2 separate regions of the Homo sapiens genome follow, and region 1 is linked to region 2. A link means that fine-mapping ties the variant in region 2 to the expression of a gene that starts in the linked region. Tissue or cell type: sun-exposed skin. Region 2 holds a variant in brackets; the other region holds the start of a gene. All regions are shown on one strand. Distances are between the middles of the regions.

Evidence for each region. PIP is the estimated chance that this variant, and not a neighbour inherited with it, causes the effect.
Region 1: CYP4F22 starts here. The variant in region 2 is fine-mapped to the expression of CYP4F22 in sun-exposed skin (GTEx, PIP above 0.99).

Annotation. Positions count from the first base shown.
Region 1 is chr19:15,505,489-15,513,572 of GRCh38, reverse strand. It overlaps CYP4F22 (cytochrome P450 family 4 subfamily F member 22), which reads right to left and starts at 5,048. Exons shown (of 14, transcript NM_173483.4): 1 at 4,990-5,048. RefSeq lists an enhancer at 4,904-5,404.
Region 2 is chr19:15,550,647-15,558,747 of GRCh38, reverse strand. CYP4F22 (cytochrome P450 family 4 subfamily F member 22) reads right to left here. Exons shown (of 14, transcript NM_173483.4): 13 at 7,992-8,074; 14 at 6,431-7,454. The coding sequence ends at 7,277. Among named protein-coding and RNA genes, the nearest start is that of CYP4F22, 46 kb to the right of the region's middle. RefSeq lists an enhancer at 2,276-2,415 and silencers at 2,876-2,935, 7,133-7,182. The variant A/G (reference allele first, on the strand shown) is at 3,290.

The DNA of each region.
Region 1 (8,084 bases), 45 kb after region 2:
CTAACACGGTGAAACCCCGTCTCTACTAAAAATAAAAAAAATTAGCCGGGCGAGGTGGCGGGCGCCTGTAGTCCCAGCTACTCGGGAGGCTGAGGCTGAAGAATGGCGTGAACCCGGGAGGCGGAGTTTGCAGTGAGCCGAGATCGCGCCACTGCACTCCAGCCTCGGTGACAGAGTGAGACTCTGTCTCAAAAAAAAAAAAAAAAAAAAATATATATATATACAAAAAATTAGCAGGGCGTGGCAGCATTCGCCTGTAGTCCCAGCTACTCAGGAGGCTGAGGCAGGAGAATCGCTTGAACTCGGGAGGCAGAGGTTGCAGTGAGCCGAGAACATGCCACTGCACTCCAGCCTGGGTCACAAAGCGAGATTCCGTCTCAAAAAAATAAAAATGAAAAAAGAAGTGTGTGCACTGAGGCTCTGTGTGTGGTCCATATGGAAAGCCTGGTACCCCTGCGAGTTAAGTACTGCCTCCATTCATCGTTTACACTGGAGTTTTTCTCCTCATGGAATGCGAGTAAAACTTAGTGTTTGTCACCAATAAATGGTAATACAAAAAAGAGAGAGAGAGAGAGAGAGAAAAGCTTTGAGGACCCAGGAAAAATGGTGGCAGCCTCTGGAAAGGGCCTGAAAGAACTCGGGACAGGGGTGGAAGGGAAACTTAAGTTTACTATCCACTTTTCCAGTCGTTTTGGTTTCCTATACCATGAGCACATGTCACCCATTCAAAAAAAATTGAATCAATTATAAAAATTCATTAGTTTACTGCATGACACAAAGAGTGAATCCTAATGTAAACTATGGAGTTTAGATAATGGAGGAAAGGTATCAGCCAGGTGAAGTGGCTCATGCCCGTAATCCCAGCACTTTGGGAGGCCAAGATGGGAGGATCACTTGAACCAAGGAATTTGAGACCAGCCTGTGCAACATAGTGAGACTCCGTCTCTACTAAAAAACAAAAAAATCAGGCCAGGCATGGTGGCTCATGCCTGTAATCCCAGCACTTTGGGAGGCTGAGGAGGGAGGATCACTTGAGGTCAGGAATTTAAGACCAACCTGGGCAACATGATGAAACCCTGTCTCTACCAAGAAAAAAAGAAATAGCTGGGCATGGTGGTGGATGCCTGTAGCCCCAGCTACTTGGGAGGCTGAGGCAGAGGTTGCAATGAGCCAAAATCTTGCCACTGCACTCCAGCCTGGGGGACAGAGTGAGACTCTATCTCAAAAACTAAAATTAATTTAATTTAATTTAATGTTCACTTTTGACTTCAACAGGCCTGGGTTCAAATCTCAGCTCTCCTATTCCCTAGGTTAGCAGCCTTGGGTGAACCCAGTCCCTGCCATCAGCCTCCCTTTGCCAATCTGTGAAATGGGTTGATAATAACAGGACCTACCCCCTAAGGTTTTTGGGACGGCTCAGTGAAATGAGGCATGGAAAGGCCTTGTCACGTAGCTCACAAAATGTTAGCCATGATGACTACTCCTATTATTGCTATTTGATAGAAGTGAGAGCAATTCAAAGGTGACACCCTCAGAATGTTGTGGGCGGCTGGCATGTCCACTCCCTATCTACACCGGCCCCCGATCTCATCCAGCAGGCCCGCCTTGGTAGAGGTGGCCCTGCCCTGCCAGGGCCCGCATTATCTGGTGGTGGTGAAAGCCAGCGACTGGCTCCGTGTCCCGGCCCACGCCCAGGTCGCGCTGGTTTGTCAGGTTGGCCCAGCCGTTCACCCACTGAGGACTTGTTATACAAGGTGTGTGGGCTCCCAAGAAGGAGTGGAGGGCACGGACCCAGGCCGACGCCAGGTACGAGATACATGCCTCTTCTTGAACTGCAGGGGCTGGGACCAGCCAGGAGCCTGATGGAAGAGCACCCCAACGCTGGCCCCATCACCCCAAATCCCAGCCCTCCTTTTCACTCCAAGCCTGTAGTCAAGGCAGCCTGCCCCCGTCCCCACTGATTCATGGTGCCACCTTGGCTTCCTCAACATCAGAGGGCTGGCTTACCCCAGAGACTCACATATTCCCCCAAAGTGCCAGACCCCAGAAGGCTGGAGCTGAGAGGGGACTTCTAAGTTGTTTTGTTGTTGTTGTTGTTTGTTTGTTTTGTTTTTTAGACATGGTCTTGCTGTGTCCTTCAGGCTGGAGTGCAGTGGTGTGATCTTGGCTCACTGCAACCTCCCCGTCCTGGGCTTGAGTGATCCTCCCACCTCAGCATCCTGAGTAGCTGGGACTACAGGCGCCTGCCACCATGCTCAGCTAATTTTTTTTTAATTTTTTTGTTAAAAAAAATTAATATAGTGCTGGGCGCGGTGGCTCATGCCTGTAATCATGCCTGTAATCTCAGCACTTTGGGAGGAGGGAGGATCACCTGAGGTCGGGAGTTCGAGACCAGCCTGACCAACATGGAGAAACCCCATCTCTACTAAAAATACAAAATTAGCCAGGCATGGTGGCACATGCCTGTAGTCTCAGCTACTCAGGAGGCTGAGGCAAGAGAACAGCTTGAACCCGGGAGGCAGGGGTTGCAGTGAGCCAAGATCACGCCATTACACTCCAGCCTGGGCAACAAGAGCAAAACTCCATCTCAAAAAAAAAAAAAAAAATATATATATATATATATATATGGTATCCCTATATTCCCCAGGCTGGTCTCAAAGTCCTGGGCTCAAACCATCCTCCAGCCTTAGCCTCCCAAAGTGCTGGGATTACAGGCATGAGCCACCACACTCAGCCTGGCTTCTAGGTCTTCAGTCTCCACTCAGCACTCTAAATTTCTAAGGTTCTGAGAAAGAGCTTCAGAGTCATTTATGACTAATGAGGGCAGGGCCAAGTTGGCAAATGTGGTAAAGGAGACAGTCCTATCGCAGCTTTGATCATATTCAAACCTTTTGCTAATAATTTCCTTGGCCCAAAGGGGATCCTGGCAGAAAAAGAAGTTTTAAAACCACTAATAATCTAGACCATTGCAGGGTTGTAATTGTTTCTGCCCACCATCCCAAGTGTGGCCACACCTGGACATGAGCCTCAGAAAAGATTCTATAAAGGTCTGCCTCTTTGCTGTGCGACCTCGGGTGAGTGTCTGCACCTCTCTGAGCCTCAATTTCTTCATCCATTAAGACAGAAGCCCTATTTACCCACCTCATGGGGCTGCAATCTTCCAGGCACATAGTAAGCCTTTGATCAATGATATCTCTCATTACCGTTGGTGCTGCCATCACGTTCATTATTGTGACCTGGCCATCTGGGGTTTGGAGAATCAGGTCCAAGTTTTATCAACAAGGAGAGATGAGTCAGGCGCAGTGGCTCATGCCTGTAATCCCAGCACTTTGGGAGGCTGAGGCGGGTGGATCACTTGAGCCCAAGAGTTCAAGACCAGCCTGGGCAACATGGTGAAACCCCATCCCTACCAAAAATACAAAAAGTAGACAGGAGTGGTGGTGCATGCCTGTAGTCCTCCATACTCAGGAGGCTGAGGTAGGAGGATTGCTTGAACCCAGGAGATCGAGGCTGCAGTGAGCTATGATTATGCCACTGCACTCCTGCCTGGGTGACAAAGTGAGACCCTGTCTCAACAACAACAACAAAAAAAGAAAGAAAGAAAGAAAGAGAGAGAGACAGAGAAAAGAAAGAAAGAAAGAAAGAAAGAAGGAAGGAAAGAAAGAAAGGAAGGAAGGAAGGAAGGAAGGAAGGAAGGAAGGAAGGAAGGAAGGAAGGAGAGATGGGTCCCATTCCCTGAATGCCTCTCAAGTCATCCAAGCCCCTCTGCAGATACCAACCTGGGTCACCGCCAGACACCAGGCCAGAGTTAATGTTACTGTTCAGAAACCCAAGCTGGGCCATTTGGTGATGCCGGGGACATCGGAAAGTGGACTGAGGCTTTGGGGTCAAACAGGGCTTGTTTTTTCAAATCCCAGCTCTCCCACTGGGCACTGGGTATCCACAGGCACAGGCTTCTTCTCTCTGGCCCTCAGTTTCCGTGCCTGTAAAATGAGGGTGGTAGGGAAGATTTGGGGAGGTTCCTTCTCTTTGGGGTTTGGAGTTACACAAGAAGGAGTTTGATGCTGCCAGCCCTGGCTGGGCACAGCTCCAGGACCTAGAAATAAGGGGTGGAGCAAGGGGCACAGGGTAGGAGGAATTTCGGGTACGCAGCCAGCCCTGGCCATCTCCTTTGCCTACAGGGCGGTGAGACTCACAATGAGTGCATGAATGAGCTGTGAGCGGGCAGATGAACCAGGAGAGATGCCCTGAGCCTAGGCCTCTCCAGCCTGCGACTCCCCAGGTGGCCAGCCTCGGCCAACTTGCATACCCAGGCTGGGCCAGGCCCCTGGGAGGCCAGAAAACATCTTCCTTCCAGCATCTATCAGACGAAGATCACCTGGGACCAACCCCAGGACCTCACACAACCCTCAGAGCCAACTCTCGGGGCCAGAAGAACACCGTCTTTTCATAGAGGGGCTCTGCGTCTGGCATGGATGGGCAGAGGGTTCCTGATAGCAGTTGAACCACAAGCCTAACCCCATCGGTTGAATGTACTACAACCTCCCCGTCAAGACAACGTGCAGTGGTGAAATCTCAGGGCGAATCCCCATTCAGCCCCAAAGAGGCGTCCCAGGGCGGGGCTTGAACCCATCTGGGATGTCCTGACTACCAGAGGGGTCTTTTGGAGGCCCCCTGCCCATCACAGATACCCAGAGAAAAGGATGCGCCTAGGACTCCGAGGCGCACACAGAAAAAAAAAAAAAGAAAACAACTCACAAATGCAGCAAACGTCGGGGACACACCCACGTGCCCCTCTCCCCACGAGTGCCCCGGGCATGCAGCCCCGTCCTGGGTCCTGGGGGGGTCCCCGTGGCCGGCTGCGCCCCGCCCGCCGCCGCGCGCAGACCTTCGCCCTTGCCCCGCCAGCACCGAACCGCGCGAGCCTCGGGTTCCAGCGCAGCGCCGCGGCCGCGCTCAGGTTACAGCCCTCACCACGCGCGCACTCACCCGCGGGTCTCAGCCTCCTGCCCTCGATCCGGATCCACCGGCGCCACTACCTGGGATCTGACCGCGCCGTCCCACGGCCCAACCCTTTAACCCCGCCCGGCCGTGCCGAGGGGTCCGCCCCCGGACATCCCGCCCCGGGCTCCCGCAGGGTTCTGGGCGGGGACTCCAGCGCTGCCCCCTAGAAAAGGAGAGAACAAGAAATAGGCGTGTGGAGGGGTGGAGAGCGATGGAAAGAGAGAGAGACTGAGACTGAGATGGAGAGATGAAGAGAGACAGAGACTTGGACACCTAGAAGTCCCAAACCATCAGGCTCCCCGCCCTCCTGCCACTGCTGGGCCGCATTAGCGCCCAAGTCCCGCTCTGGACCACACTCCTCCCACACCAACACCCCCCATGGCCCTTACTTCCAGGTTTGCTCCCAAGCTTGGACAGCGATCTCTAAACCATCACCCCCTGGGGCCCCACTGACCCCCCCGAGAAGCCTCCTCTGGGGCCCTCAGGAATTCTCTGGCTCCACCAGCCCTTGGGAACCAGCCCTTCCCCTCTCTCTGGATCCTGGGCCTAAGCTTCCCCGGCACCCACCCCTGGAGGCTCTGCAGCCTCTTCCTCCAGGAAGACCTCCAACCTCAACAAGCAGCACCAGACTGGTTCTGCTCCCCGCCAACCCGCCCTCCGCCACTCCTCCCCACCCACTGCCAGACACCTTGACCCTCTGACCAGGATGTTGTCCTTGGCCAACCCGTCTACTCCAGATGTGTGGAGACAGAGTCAGCTCCGCCTCTGGATGTGTCTGTCCTCCGGAGTCGGTGGGTGGATGTGTGGCTGACCTTAGCACGTGGGCAGACAGATGAGAAGACAAGAATCTCCACTTGCCCCAGCAGGTGGTAAACTTAGAAGACTTCCTTATCCCTCTTTTTTCTAAGAATACGCTCTCATTTGGTGCTGGGCCCTTGGAAAGAGGGCGTGGGAGGTGTGGGGCATGTCTCCTGGTGAAGAAGAGGAGACACAAGTAATTGAAGTTTTGCTGCTTGGAGGAGGCAGACATGAGGTCAGGGAAGGCGACGTGGAGGATGTGACACTTGAGCTGGGACTGCATGGAGAGGTTGGATTTCAACAAGTGCAGGAGAGGGGGTAGAGCTCAAGCACAGAGAAACTGGAGGGTGTGACTTAGCAGATGGCTTTCCCTGGCCTTGGAGTGTGAGAGGTGTGGAGGCTGGAGGGATGCAGGAGTTGACTGTGAAGGCCAGTTTGAATGGCTGGATCTTGATCTGGTGGGCAGTGGGGAGCCATGGATGGTGCTTGAGTAGGGGAGGTGCCCCCTGTTAGTTGATTGGTCTCACTCTGTCATCCAGGCTGGGGTGACTCCTGGGCTCAAGCCATCCTCCTGCCTCAGCCTCCTGGGTAGTTGGGACTACAGACACGTGCCACCACACCCAGCTAATTTTTTTTTTTCATTTTTTTAGAGACAGGGTCTCACTATGTTGCCCAGGCTGGTCTCAAACTCCTGGGCTCAAGCCATTCTCCCAGCTCCTAGAACTTTTAAAAAAAAATATTTATATTTATTTGTGTCTTTAATCTTTTTTACTTCTGAGGAAGAGCTTATTTTATTAATTTTTTATTCATAATTAACGCAGCATGAAAGCCTATTTTTTAGGGATATGAATTTTGTTTTGCCAGTAATTCTGGCCAAGGGGGAGCTTACTAGAAGCACTTTGGAAAATGCAGAGATCCACATAGAGTGAAGTTTGAGAGGGACCCCTCCAGTGGCTGCAGGGGACAGAGACAAAGGGTGGGGGTAGCTGAGACCCAGGAAGGGGTTAAGGATGAGGTCCCGGAGGTCATCTCCACTGACCACTGGCTAAATACGGGGTTCTAGGGAAGAGAGAAGGAAAAGAAGCCATCTGCCTGGCTTCTCTGCTCTCAAAGAGCTGGAGACCAGGAAGGAGGAGTAAGTGAAAGGGCCTGGAGCACTAAGAGTGGGCTTCGTGGATGTGTGGCCTTGAGCTAGTCACATGGCTGCTCTGAGCCTCCATCTCCCTATGCATAAAATGCAGAAGAAGCCCATGTGATGAGGTGGTGTTCAGCCCCACTCCTGGCACAGGGCACAGGCTGGACAAACATCAGCTGTTTGAGTTTGCAGTTGATTGGGGCCATCCCAGCAGAGTAGAGTTTTCCGCCAGGGAATGTTTAGCAACATCAGGAGATCATACTGCTGGGTGGGGGGTAGAGGTGGGGGTGGGGGAATTCAGGGTGGTGCAACTGACATCTAGTGGGTGAAGGCCAGAGATATTATTCAACATCCAGAACACCCCCACCCCCAAAGAATAATCCAGGCTCAAATGTTGACAGTGCTAAGATTGGGAAACCGTGGGTCACCTTCAGTCTAAAAGTCTCGTGGGTCTCATGGGATGACATTCAGGGAGACATCCAGGAGGCAGTTGGGCTCAGCGTGAGGGCACCTCCTGAGAATTGCATCTGTGAGTCACCTGCCTTGGGAAGACGGTGGATGGCATGGCAGTAGGTCAGCGAGATCACTCAGGAGGGAGGTGGGCAGAGAAGAGGAGGGGAGGGCAGAAGTGGGGATCACAGCCACTTTTTTTTTTTTTTTAAGATGGAGTCTCACTCTGTTGCTCTGTTGTCCAGGCTGGATACAGTGGCACAATCTTGGCTCACTGTAACCTCCGCCTCCCGGGGTCAAGCGATTCTCCTGCCTCAGCCTCCCGAGTAGCTGAGACTACAGGTGCCCACCACCAAGCCCGGCTAATTTTTGTATTTTTAGTAGAGACGGGGTTTCGCCGTATTGGCCAGGCTGGTCTCAAACTCCTGACCTCAAGTGATCCACCTGCCTTGGCCTCCCAAAGTGCTGGGATTACAGGCATGAGCTGCCGTGCCTGGCCTTTTATTTTATTTTTTAATCAAACAGAGTCTTGCTCTGTCACCCAGGCTAGAGTGCAGTGGTGCTATCTTGGCTGACTGCAACCTCCACCTCCCGGGTTCAAGCAATTCTCCTGCCTCAGCCTCCTGAGTAGCTGGGATTACAGGCTTGCACCACCACGCCCGGCTAATTTTTGTATTTTTAGTAGAGACAGGGTTTT
Region 2 (8,101 bases):
ACAGATAGGAGTTCATACACACATACCAAAAAAAAAAAAAAAACTTGTATATCTTTTTTATTTTTTTGAGATGGAGTTTCGCTCTTGTTTCCCAGACTGGAGTGCAATGGCATGATCTTGGCTCACAGCAACCTCTGCCTCCCTAGTTCAAGCGATTCTCCTGCCTCAGCCTCCCAAGTAGCTGGGATTACAGGCTCACACCACCGCGCCCGGCTAACTTTGTATTTTTAGTAGAGACAGGGTTTCTCCGTGTTGGTCAGGCTGGTCTCGAACTCCCGACCTCAGGTGATCCGCCAGCCTCGGCCTCCCAAAGTGCTGGGATTACAGGCATGAGCCACCGAGCTTGGCCTGTATATTGTTTTAACCTACTAAGTTTCCTGGTAGTTCAATATACAATAATAGATAATTGAAACAGATATATTTCCCAACAAGTTTGGAGTCATCAAAAAACTGATAATGGACTGGGTGCAGTGACTCAGGCCTGTAATCACAACAGTTCGGGGGGCCAACATAGGCGGATCACTTGAATCCAGGAGTTCCAGTTCAGCCTGGGCAACATGGTAAAACCCCATCTCTACAGAAAATACAAAAAAAAGCATCTGGATGTGGTGGTGGGAGGATTGCTTGACCCCAGGAGACAGAGGTTGCAATGAGTTGAGATTGAGCCACTGCACTCCAGCCTAGGCAACAGAGCAATACCCTGTATCAAAAAAAGAAAAAAAAAAAAAGGCCGGGTGCAGTGGCTCACCCCTGTAATCCCAGCACTGGGAGGCCAAGGTGGGTGGATCATTTGAGGTCAGGAGTTCAAGACCAGCCTGGCCAGCATGGTGAAACCTCATATCTACTAAAAATAACAAAAAAAAAATTAGCCAGGCATGGTGGTGTGCCTGTAATCCCAGCTACTCAGGAAGCTGAGGCAGTAGAATCACTTGAACCCAGGAGGCAGAGGTTGCAGTGAGCCGAGATCATGCCACTGCACTCCAGCCTGGGTGACAGAGTGAGACCCTGTCTCCAAAAAAAAAATTTTTTTAATAAACAAAAAAAACCCGGTAACGTGTGCATAAATGCTTTTATATACATTGGAAAACGTTCATATATATATGAACGTTTTTTAATTTTTAAAAACTGAAAAAAGAGCACACCAAACTGCTGGGCCAGAGGTAGAAGCAGAAGCAGAAAGCGGAAGAATTTCCCTTTCAAATTTTACACTTATAACTTATTCCCTGCTCCTTCCATGTCCTTGAGGAGGGAGGAGGCTGTCAGGAGAGGAGTGAGCACCCAGCTTGTGGTCAGACAGCCCATAGTCAAAGCCAGGCTCTGCCACTCCCTCACTGCCGTGTGACCTTGGGCAAGTGATTTGCCCTCTCTGAGCCTCACATTCATCGTTGGTAAAAAAAATAAATAAAAGCGCACACTGACAGGCTTCTGGGGATTGGAGGAACCAGCACACATGTGTGTCTTAATTTGGGTTCCCTGGAACTAGACCTTAATACAAGGAGTTGAGTGCAAATCCTCTATCAGGAGGGTGACCATAAGACAAGAGTTCAACTGCCTGTTGTTTCTTTGGGAGGTGATCCCTGGAAACACAATTAGGGCAATGGAGAAGAGGGATGGGGAAGGGAAGGCAGCAGCAGTTAAAGGGACCTTTATTGAGGAAGTTTCCACTGTGGGTAGCTAGGGCTCAGCCCTGCCTAGTACCTCAGGGAGACAGAATAGAACATGCACCTCCCAGAACAAGGGAGTCTTCACCCCCAGAGAGAGGGAGCTGGGGTATTTATCCACCAATACCCACCAGTCATTACTGACAGCTTCCTCCAAGGGCATGATTTCTCCAGAATGTCCTGCCTGCACCGCACAGGTCAGACCTGGGGACAGAGGCAAGGGCTCTGACAGTGGCTCCAGCCATGAGCAGGAACACAGCCTGGTGTGTGTGGATAGTTACAGTGACTCAGTGAGTGGAGTTCTCCTCTCCTCTCCTTCCAACACACCCATCCATATGCGCACACACAGTCACACCGACACATACACGTTTACACACACTCGTGTGCACACTACAACACATGCACACACTGTTACCCAAATGCACCCAAACACATACGCGGTCACACATGCACGCTCAAACGTGCACGGACACAAAATTGAACGAATAGAGAATGGATCTCCAAATTGTCCAGCAGAGGGAGCGTTCTTCACACTCAGGAGGAAGGAGGTCCCACAGCCGCCAGCGACAGGACCAGACTTCGGTGTTTTGAGAATTACACTTGCAGTACGTGTAACAGGGCTCCGGGGACCCAGGGACCTTACTCCTCCCCTTCTCATTCTCATTTATTCACCCTCGTGGCCCTTGGCGGAAACTCAGTGTGCATTACAAGCATGATGATACCGGACTATTCGCATGACAAGAAAAAGCCGAGGTGCAGAGAGGGACAGTCACGTGCCCAAGGCCGCCCCTAGGAAGGAAGAGCCTAGATTGAGCCCACATATGTCGGATCTCAAGGCTAACTTCGTTTGCTAGTGGATGGCGAGGTTGCGCCGAAAAGGGCCCAGGAGATGTTTGGCAAAGGATGCGCTCTTGGAGACCCTCGGTTGGGAGGGGGGTGTAGGAGAGGCAGCACCTGCAAGATCCGGGTGGCTCACGTAGGGTCTGGGACTGTCTGTTTCCCATTCAGCCCCGGAGTACGTCGAACAGGGGATCCCGGCCGACGACCCCAGCACAGGCCACCGGGGGGCGCCCCAGGACACACGCCGCTGCTACTGCCTCTCGCACAGCCAGCCCCGCTTTAGCTCATCTCCTCCCCGCTCCAACTCTAGCCCAACCCCCGTCGACGCCCCCTTCTACGCTACGTGGCTAGGGATCTAGACCAGGACTGGGAGCCTGAGGGGTGGGGCAGAAGAGGACTCAGCGCCAGCGCTGAGGCCGCACCGAATGATCTTGGGTAAGTCACTTCATTCGGGGGCTCAGTTTCTACCTCTGTTAAACGGAATAATAAAAAGTGATCTTACAAGTCAGTATGAGGATTAAATGGGAATATATGGAAAGAGCACACAGGAAGCACTCAATCAAAAAAAAAAGTTTTGTTTTTGTTTTTCAGACCGAGTCTCGCTCTGTCACCCAGGCTGGAGTGCAGCGGCACTATCTTGGCTCACTGCAACCTCCGTCTCCCGGGTTCAAGCGATTCTCCTGTCTCGCCCTACCGAGTAGCTGGGACTACAGGCGCGTGCCACCACTCCCGTCTGATTTTTTTTTTATTTTTAGTAGAGACAGTGTTTCACCGTGTTAGCCAGGATG[A/G]TCTCAATCTCCTGACCTCGTGATCCGCCCGCCTCGGCCTCCCAAAGTGCTGGGATTACAGGAGTCAGCCACCGCGCCCTGCCCTAATTTTTTGTATTTTAAGTAGAGATGGAGTTTCACCATGTTGGCCAGGCTGGTCTGGAACTCCTCGCCTCAACTGATCCGCCCACCCCGGCGTCCCAAAGTGCTGGGATTACAGGTGTGAGCTACCACGCCTGGCCTCATAATTGTTAGGTTAACTTTGGAGACCACCCCCAGGGCTCCCTTAAGCCCTTACTCCATACACACACACACACACACACACACACACACACGCGCGCGCGCGCGTGCGCGCACACACACACGCACACATGAGATCTCACCCAGTCTTAAAGTTTTGCTTTCTTTTCTGTTTTTTTTTTTTTGTTTTTTTTTTTTTGTTTGTTTTGGTTCTCCAGTTCATGGTTTTTAATTAGCAGAACTGTTGCCTTTGGGACTGGATAATTACTTGTTTTATTGAGCTAGGTATCCTTTGTCTTGTAGAATGTTTAGCAGAGTGCTGGGTCCCTACCCTCTAGACGCAAATAGTAACCACCGGTTGTGACAACCAAAAATGTTTCCAAATAACAACGAATGTCATCTGGTAGGAAAAATCACCCCCATTTGAAATCGCTTCACTAGCTTTTGGAAAAATATATAAAATATTTATACTAAGGCTTCCCAAATATACATGCCCAACCCAAAACTCTTGAATTGGAGAACCGTTTATTCGACTGACATGTCCAATTCCTCTGAACCAAAACTGACATCCTGACATCTCCCACAAAACAACTTACTCCACTCAGCATTCCCCACGTCAGCTGATGGCAGTTCCATTTTTCCAGATGTTCAAGCCCAAACCTAGTGTCCCCCACTTCTTTCAAACTTCACGTTTTATCCACCACCAAGCCTGACAGCACTGCCTTTGTGAACAGTCACTCCTCCTTGGAATCCAATTGCTCTTGATCACATCTAAAGACCCCGGCTTGGTTGAAGCCACCATCATGTCTCACCTGGACGAATGCAGTCACCCCTAACTGATCTGCCTAGTCCCATCTTTGCTCACACTGTCTCTGTTTAACAGAGCACACAAAGTCCTGTGGAAGTCCTGGCATGGTGGCTCACACCTGTAATTCCAGCACTTTGGGAGGCTGAGGTGGGAGGATCGCTTGAGACCAGGAGTTCAAGACCAGCCTGGGCAACATGGTAAGACCCCCGTCTCGATAACAAATACAAAGCTTAGCTGGGCATGGTGGTGTGTGCCTGTGGTCCCAGCTACTCAGGAGGCTGAGGCAGGAGGATCGTTTGAGCCCAAGGAGGCCAAGGCTGCAGTGAGCTATGGTTGCACCCCTGCACACCAGCCTGAGCAACAAAGCATGACCCTGTCTCAAAAAAAAAAAAAAAAAAGTTCGTATGACAAAGCTTGTCCCTCCTCTGCTCAGAACTCCCCATTTCTGTCACAAAAAAAGTCACAGAAAAGGCCCTGTGTGAATTTACTTCTTTCTTTACTTATTTATCATTTATCATATCTCCTCCCTAGAGGTAAACTCTGGGAACCTAGGGCTCAAACAGTGCCTGTCTCACGGCAGATTGCCCAAGAAATATTTGGTAAATTAATTTTTTTTTTAGACAGAATCTCACTCTGTCGCCCAGGCTGGAGTGCAGTGGCACAATCTCGGCTCACTGCAACCTCCACCTCCCAGGTTCAAGCGATTCTCCTGCCTCAGCCTACTGAGTAGCTGGGATTACAGGCACCCGCCATCAAACGTGGCTAATTTTTGTATTTTTTAGTAGAGACAGGGTTTCACCATGTTGGCCAGGCTGGTCTCAAACTCCTAACCTCAGGTGATCCACCTGTCTCAGCCTCCCAAAGTGCTGGGATTACAGGCATGAGCCACCGCACCCGGCCTGTTGAATTAATATTATTGTCTCTAGTGACCTAGATGGAAATAGTCTACAGGCAAATGCTACCTAAAAGGAAGATGATACCACTATTATACCACCACTATATATATAATGATGGCATATATAGTGCATATATATATATTATATATGTGGTATAATAGCAGTATCATTTTCCTTTAGTGTAGCATTTTATATGTATAAAATTGCTGACATTGTCATTGCCCACCTTTTTTTGTTTGTTTGTTTTTGGAACAGGGTCTTGCTCTGTTGCCCCAGCTGGAGTGCAGTGGTGTGATCATAGCTCACTGCAGCCTCAAACTCCTCAGCTCAAGTGATCCTCCTGCCTCAGCCTCCCAAGTAGCTGGGACTACAGATGTGCACCATCACACCTGGCTAATTTTTTATTTTTTGTAGAAATGGAGTCTCACTGTGTTGCCCTGGCTGGTCTCTAACTCCTGGTCTCAAGCAATCCTCCAGCCTCAGCCTCCCAAAGTGCTGGGATTACAGGTGTAAGCCATCACGCCTGGCCCCCATCTTTTATATTCCCATATCAGGGACTACTCTACCATCAAGTTCCCTCAGCCAAATACCTGAGCATCACCCTTACCACCTCCCTCCCCTCAGCCCCCACTGCTAGATAGTCACCCCAATCCTGGCCCTTCCTGTTGTCTGGACCTCAGCTTCCCTCTTTCCCAGGGTCCCAACCCCGCAAGTCACCTCCCTGCCAGCCCTAGATCTGGCCATGTCCTGTCCTGATCCCGCTCACACACTCTCCATGGCTCCCTATTGCCCTCAGCATAAAGCCTGTGCATTTGGCCCCTTCCTTCATTCTGCCCCCACTTCCCAGATCCAACCACCTGGCCCCTGGTGAGTTCCTCAAACACACTCTGTTCTCCCTCAGCTCAGGGTATTCTCAGATGTTGTTCCTTCTGCCTGGAATACTCTTCCCTCCCCTTGTCACCCACTCAACTTCCATTCCAGCATCGGAGAAGCTCTCCCTGACCCATCCCCATCCCTCTGCTATATTCATCCAGCACCCGGGGCCTCTCCTTTGGAGCACCTGTCCTGGGTTGTAAATAAACCTTTACACGTGGAATTATTTGTTCAACATCTGTCCCCCACCCCCTAAGAAGGCAGAAAACAGGGCCTGCCTGTGGTTCTGAAGCAGTGCCAGCAAACAATATGTGATCTGTTGATGAAATAAATGAACACACAAACTGACCCCCAAAATCTGAGTTTATGTCCTAGGATAAATGGCTTTCCAGCCTCCTAGCCCGCAGCTTCGCTCAGTTGCAGAGCCCCTCATTCCCATGCTGGGGGCTCCACGTGTAAGGATCTGGCTGAGCTAGGGGTGGAGGGTGGGGTAAGTCTGCATCCTTTGCTTTTATTCTGCAAAAACAGAACACTCAGCAAAGGATCTTTGGGCAAGGGAGGAAGGAAGGGGCTTACAAGGGTCTGAGTTTACAAAACAACAACAAAAGCAAGCAGCCTCGAACCCTACGATCCAGCCTCACGCCTGAGCAGTCTGCCCGTATGAGCTGAGGGCCTCAGGAGGGTGATGTCCGAGTTAAAAGCTCTGACGTCAGGCTCCAGCTTTCCTCAGTTTGGAAGCCTGCCAGGGGTTCAGCCAGTTGGGGGGGGGTGGGGTGTGGTGGGCCCTGAGTCATAGGTGGGTCTTAGGTCCTCTGAAGGCTCAGTGGGCAAGGCCTGGAGACCTGGATCTGCAGGGGCGTGGCCTGAGGACCTCAATCCGTAGGATCCTGGGGGCGGGGCCTGAGCCCAAGGGGGCAGGGTCGACCCTGGTCCCTCAAACAGGACAGGTGCGAGAAGTCAGGGGGCGGGACCTAAGCCTCAAGGGGCGGGATCAGGCCCCCTAAGGGGAGGAGCCTTGCCTTGAGGGGCGTGGCCAGTACCACCAGGCTGCTCAACAGCGGTGCCTGGTCATCCAGGAGCTGAACCTGAACTTCGAGGGGGGTGGCCTATGCCCTCGGGATCTTTGGGGCGAGTCCTGGTCCTTTGGGGGCGGGGCCTGGACCCTCGGGAGCCGCAGGGGCGCGCCCACGCTCAGGCCCGCGGAGGCAGCGGCTCCACCTTGAGCCAGAGCCCGTTCTCCGTGCGCAGTATGAGCTCCGGCTTCCGCCGCACCTTGCGCGTTCGGTCCACGCTCAGGCGGAAACGTAGCAGTGTTAGTGCCACAACCACGCGCAACTCGGCCATGGCGAAGCTCTGTCCGATGCAATTCCTGGAGGAAGAGGGGACAGGGCTCAGGCCCAGCTTCTGTGTGAGCACTGGTCCCCGGGGGTCACATGCCTCCTTTGAAAATGAAGCAAGCATCCTGGGCTGGCTGAGGGTTAAAGTGAAACCCCACGCTGGGTGAGGGTTAAAGTGAGACCCCACGGATCGCTCAATTAATGTGACCTTGGGGTTGAGTGTCTGAATCCCAGTACAGCCTCTTACTAGCTGTGTGTCCTGGATACACAGCGCCCCCTCTGAGTCTCAGTTCCTTCATCTGTAAAAACGGGGACAAAGGCATCATAGAGCCAATGGGAGCGTGGGAGCCCAGAACTCAGGGCCTGACACACCGTTGGTGCTCAATACCCAGGATGCTATTGCAGAGTCTGATTTGGGGGCCTCCTGGCGCATTGGGGAGAGGGTGCTGGGTCTTCAGAAAGGACGCCTGGGTGCCATCTGATCTCTGCTCCTGAGAGGCACATTCCTGATCTTTCCCTGCCTCTGTTCCTACACAGCTGGCTTGGACTAGGGGAAATAGAGGGGTTACCTGGGTCCTGCAGAGAAGGGCACATAGGCCAGTGGAGAGCGCTGCTGTGGGTTGTCCGGGTCAAAGCGGTAGGGGTTGTACACCTAGGGAGGAACAGCCTGGAGATGAGT